Regions from separate parts of the Homo sapiens genome. Here region 2 is linked to region 1. Evidence: fine-mapped expression QTL. A gene starts in region 1. The other region holds a variant in brackets. All regions are shown on one strand. Distances are between the middles of the regions.

Region 1 (2,912 bases):
GACACAGAAGCAGACTCATTGGTCAAGGGAATGAGGGGGTGCCCTGGAACGAGCCAGTGCCTTCACCTGCAAGCGCTACTAAACCTCCAAGAACAGGAGACTTCTGTGTTCACAAGCTGTTCCAATAAAAGAAGCGCAAAATATCTCCCTAGACTCTTTATAACACCAGACAAGGAAAGTGGAAAGTTACAGTTCAGTCTCCCTTAGGAAGAGGAAATAGCAAAAACCCTGCAGGAGAACTTCTTGAACCAAACGCAACAGAATAAAAAAAGAATGCAGGATAACCCAGTTAATGGTGATTTCATATCAGAAATCCGTCCTGTTTGCTCTTAGAAGAGGAGGGGTGCGGGGATTCCCGGGTGGCAGGTCGGTGGGAGGGATCGGGAGTGAGTGGGGAGGGATGGAAAGGGAGCGGGGCGGGGCGATGGTCAGGGAGCAGTCAGGGGAGGGATGGAGCCAGCGAGGGTCGGGATAGCGAGCGAGGGTGGGAGGGACTCCGTAACAGCCCCTCTGTGCTCAGCGGATCCCCTTCTAGCAGCCCCTCCCTCTCCTCCCGACCCTCCCGCAGGCACCTGCTGGGGGCTGTGGGGCCCAAAGCGGGAGGGAGTTAACGAGGTTGTTGCAGAAGTCCTCCTGGCGGCACACGAAGGTGTAGGAGATCAGGGAGAGGCCGGGGCCCATCCGGTGCTCAGTGACGCGGGGCTCCTGGTCCTTGGCCTCCGTGCAGCCCTTGGAGAGCACCAGGCTCACTTGGGGTCCTGGACCGAAAGAGGGAGGCAAGCGAGGATGGAGGTCAGGCCTCCAGGGTCCTGGAGGGAGACGCTGCTACACGGCGTAGGCTGAGAGGCTGGAAAGGGGATCACCGGGACCCTAGGAGTCGATCCCCCGGAGGGGTGGCTCCCGGGTCCCTGCACAGGGATCAAGGGACTGAGGGGACAGGGCGGGGTCTCTGCACGCCAGGGCCTTCTCACCGCTCTCAATGAGCATCAACGTGTCCTGGCACCCCAAGCCGCTGTCGCAGCTGGTGTTCTTAGGGGTCCATTGCCGGGGCAGGTCGGACACCTTCCACACATGCTGAACTGTCCCAAACTGGCAGAGCAGCGCCTGCACTCCTGGAGTGGCAAGAGCAAATCCATCTCAGCAGGGTTCCCTTGCCCGGCCTCCAGGGAATCTCCTCCAGGCTGGGCTCATCACTCACCTGGCAGTGGGAGGATGAACCCCAGGAGGGCCAGCAGTAATACCGCGCTCATGACCCGTCTGTGGCTGGTAATCTCTTTCTGCTTTTTCAGCAGGAAACAAGTCCTTTATACCAGCCCTTAAGCAGCCAGCCCAGAAAAGGGTGGGGAGGGGAGGGCCTTGCAAAATGGAGGCTTGGGCCCCACCCCAAGTCTCAATGGCCGCAGTGGCCTATCAGGGACCCCCTTTCTTCCTCAGACCTTCGGGTCCAGGCATCCAGCCCCTCCTCCCTCAGATGGAGGGTCCAGGACCCCCAGCCCCTCAGCCCCTCCTCCTTCAGACCCAGGAGTCCAGACCCCCAGCCCCTCCGCCCTCAGACCCAGGAGTCCAGGCCCCCAGTCCCTCCTCCCTCAGACCCAGGAGTCCAGGCCCCCAGTGCCTCCTCCCTCAGACCCAGGAGTCCAGCCCCCCAGCCCCTCCTCCCTCAGACCCAGGAGTCCAGGCCCCAGGCCTCCCTCTCTCAGACCCAGGAGTCCAGGCCCCGAGGCCCTCCTCCCTCCGACCCAGGAGTCCAGACCCCCAGGCCCTCCTCCCTCAGACCCAGGAGTCCAGGCCCCCAGGCCCTCCATAGTTAGAAACTGTGGCATCTTGACCCGAGGTTCCCCCGGTCCAGACTCCCAGCCCTCTTTCCTCCTGAGCCCAGCTATGTGGATCACCACCCCCACCCTCTTTCTCCAGTAGTTTGGGAAGGCAGTTTCCTCATTTCTCATGGGCTCCCTGGCCACCTCTGTACCCCAGATGGGGAAATGGCCCAACTACCTGTGAGGACGTTGTGCAGTGGGCATCAGCTTGTCCCCATGTCTTCCGGTCCTAGTTTCTACCCTCCACTGTCTTCCCACTTCTCTGTTCTTTCTCTTTCCTTCTTATATTGCTTTCTTTTGATTCTTCTTTTCATGCTTTTCTCTCATGCTTTCTCTTCTATTCTCTACCCTCACAGTACAACATAGGACTCAAGTCCCCAGTTTCCTACCACCAGGAAAGGCTTGGCCAGAGGTGGAGTAGAGACTGAATATCTATGAAAGAATTAGGATATATCTGAAAAATGCAACATTTATTTGCTGGAAGCCGATGGGAGAGCAGTGTTGTGCTGAAAAACCAAGTTTTCTGAAAAACAATACCCACAAATCCTGCCTCGTAGTGTTGGCCTATTTCTCTGGTGTAAATACTCATAGCATGTCTGATTTTAAGCTACCTACAGTTTGCCAACCAGGCTGATGAAATCCCTAGCTATTTAACCATGGGCTTGTCCAGGGCTGTACAAATCAGCTGTAACACACTGGGGTGGCGGGGAGGAAGACAGGAAGGAACCTGGGGTATCTGTCAGTGACTGCAGAGGGACGTTGTGGGTGTCTGTGACGGAGAGAGGAGAAGCAGAAGAGGGAAGGCGAGAGCAGGAATAGCAGAGAAAGAGAAATGAATGTGACTTGCAATTATATGTTTATTTTTGACATCTCTATAAATTTTATCTTTATTTGTCTTTGCAAGTTTATTGCAAGTTTAATATTTGCCACACAGACAGGGAAGTGTTTGTCTGATCTCCTGCTATGTCTCCACCACCTACATGGCATACAGTACATGCCCAGTAATTTTTTTTTTTTTTTAGAAACAGAGTCTTGCTCTCACCTATGCTGGAGTACAGTGGTGCAGTTGTAGCTCACTGCAGGTCACTACAGCCT
Region 2 (2,912 bases), 36 kb after region 1:
CTGGGCATAGGCTGAACTAACTTTAATAGGAATTTAGTTTACAGTTTAAAACAAAGACGATAACAGCCCTTTCCCAAAACGAACCTCCTTCTTGCCTGGGGACAAGACTGCCTTTGTGGGACTAACAAATTAGCCACAAGATTAGAAATTACGGTTTAAGAGTCATGCAGCTGGAGGCTACAAGATTCTGACCCTCTCTAAACTGCTCCTGAGATCTGTCTGAGCTATTTGGCAGACCCTGCACTTGATGGATGGATGAGCTGGCCCCACCCAGATCGATAAAATGGGTCATTTGATCTTGTGACCTCTACTCAGGAACTGACTCAGCAAAAAAGGACAGCTTCAACTTCCCATGATTTCATCTCCTACCTAACCAATCAGCACTCATGCTACATCAGCTGACATTAAAATTACTTAGATATACAATTTGAATGAACGTCATGGTCTAAGTCAAATTACCTATGATAACCCATCAGTTATCAGTGCTATGCACATAATTTGAAGAAAAACTATGATTCAAGAGGATATGAGTCTAATATTAATTAAGCATGGACTCATGGAGAACCAGGATGGCCACCTTGTCCTTCCTAAGTCCTTAAAGCTTTTATTATTAAAAGTTCTGCATTCCATGACTCATCATGGAAAAGATAAAAATATTCAAATGGAATATATTGGTGTGGTGACTTATAAATTGTTAAAAGAATTTATAACCAATGTTTGGCCCCATATTCCTGGGAAAACAATCAAAGCTTCAGGTACACTTGGTCACCTGCTGGTCCATTTAAACATTTTATAATGAGATTTCATTCAATTGTTATTTTCAATGCATATTTTCTGGTTCTGGTTGTATAAAAGCTCTCCCATGCAAGAGGGCTCATGTTATCTACTAAGTTATTATGTTACAGTGTATTTTCACCAGATAAAGAAAACTTTCTATAGTTCACTAAAGATAATCAACGCATTCACAACCTAGAATCCAGAAGTAGAATTGCTGGATCAAGTAGTAATTCTTTAATTTATTGAGAAACTGCCATACCACTTTCCACAGCATCTATAACATTTCCCATCACCAGCAGCAATGCACTAGAGCCCTAATTTTTCCACCTACTTGAAAACACTTGTGGTTTCATGTTGTTGTTGTTTTTATTAAAGCCATTTTAATGTGTGTGAGGTGGTGTATTACTGTGGTTTTGATTTGCATATCCGTAAGTATTAGTGATGTTGAGAATCCTCGCATGTCCTCACTGGCAATGTGTGTGTCTTCCTTTGGGAAGTATTTTAGTCTTTTGTTCACTTTTAAATTCGGGTTTTTGGATTTTTGCTGTATTTGACTTGTAGTAGTT[T/C]GAGTCAAGTACAAATTGTGAGGTCCTGTTCCAGCCATTGGAAGCCGCACACAGCAGTAGGGTGGATGCATCAGGTTATAAATGACCTTGTCTCCTTTGTTCGTGTGTGCATTCATGGCAAGACTGCTGGCGAGCGGCACTTTTTCTGCAGAAAGTAAACTAGCCTTGCTGAGAGATGCTGTGCCTCAGTGCTGATCTTTATGACACCGAGCACCCGTTACCAACAATTTGAAGGCCCCAGCGAGATTAACATTCCCCTCTGGGACAGTCTTTGGCCCTGTCTTGTGGGGAGGCGCCCTGCCGCCCGTTGCGGCAGCCCCAGGAGGAGAGCCGGGACCTACCCGGTGAGAGGAATATACTTGAATTCTCAGCAACGCGGGGAAAGAGACAGGCTTGCGGGACTCCCCACAGTAACCAGGCAACGCCGTGCATGGGCCAAGGTAGGAAAAGCCGCAAGAGGGCAGCAAAGTACTTCCTTGGTGGTCAGCTTTTGGGAGGCTGAGTGTGTGTGCACGATTACCAACTTGTTGCTGGACAGAGTGCGTGGACATAAACGGGAAGAGTGTAAGGAACCTCCAAAAGGGAAACGGAGGAAGGTTAACCTCGCAGGGAAAGAGAATCGGTGAAACACCTCTGGTGTGAGAGATTAAGCCTTGAGGACAGGACAGACGAGACATCCCCGGTATCTGGGGGATTCAGCCTTCCTGGGAAAGGAAGAGGCAAAACATCCCTAGCACAAGGGATTGGGCCTATCTGGGATTCAACATGGGAAATGCTTCTAGTAGGATTGGGACAGGAAATAGACCAGGCAACAAGGGAGGGGACAGTGATCAAATTTCCTTTGATAGTCCCTTAGGATTCATGCTATAATATTGGAAAGAGGATGAGCGGACTAAATATAAGAGAAAACAACAGATGATTAAATATTGCTGTTTCCTCTGGACCCAAGAGCCAACCTTAAAACCTGCCATTTTCTGGCCAAAATTTGGTTCAGATGAGGATTGGGTCTGTCAACTTTTAATAATGTATGTTAACAACCAAAGCCCCATGTCCCCAGAAAAAATGGATTATGCCTTATGCTAGCAGCAAGGGCCTGCCCTTCTTTACCCCTTAAATGACTTAAAGACGGTAACAGACAGAAACAAAGGCCCAGAGCAGTTAGTGGGATCCTTTAAATTATCTTCCCGTTTCTGAATCCCACGGCGCTGCTGCTGCCTGCCGTATGGCTGCCGCCTTCTCCTCCTCAGATGGAACTCCCGCCTCCCACTCCTCCTCCGGCAGAAGTCCCGCCTCCCCTCCTCCTCAGGCGGAAGTCTCGTCCCCCCCACCCGCTCCAGGGATCACTCTGGACTTGGAGGCGTCTGTTCCCGAGGAATTACCGCCTCAGTGGCTTGATCATCTCTGCTGCCCATCTAAATGTCCTTCCTCAAAAAGAGGGCTCCAAAAAGAGATAGAACAATGTAAAAGGGACATTCAGAATCTTCCTTTTCCTTGCACTCCTAAAGAATCGACTTCCCAGCTCTTCCCTCTAAAAAAAGTTCCACAAGGAGAGGGCACGATTGGCTTTAT

The links. PIP is the estimated chance that this variant, and not a neighbour inherited with it, causes the effect.
Region 2: its variant is fine-mapped to the expression of CD177 in whole blood (TOPMed, PIP 0.92).

Annotation. Positions count from the first base shown.
Region 1 is chr19:43,352,053-43,354,964 of GRCh38, reverse strand. CD177 (CD177 molecule) reads right to left here and starts at 1,279. Exons shown (of 9, transcript NM_020406.4): 1 at 1,199-1,279; 2 at 972-1,112; 3 at 573-758. The coding sequence starts at 1,250.
Region 2 is chr19:43,315,775-43,318,686 of GRCh38, reverse strand. No RefSeq gene overlaps it. Among named protein-coding and RNA genes, the nearest start is that of LINC03078, 14 kb to the left of the region's middle. The variant T/C (reference allele first, on the strand shown) is at 1,344.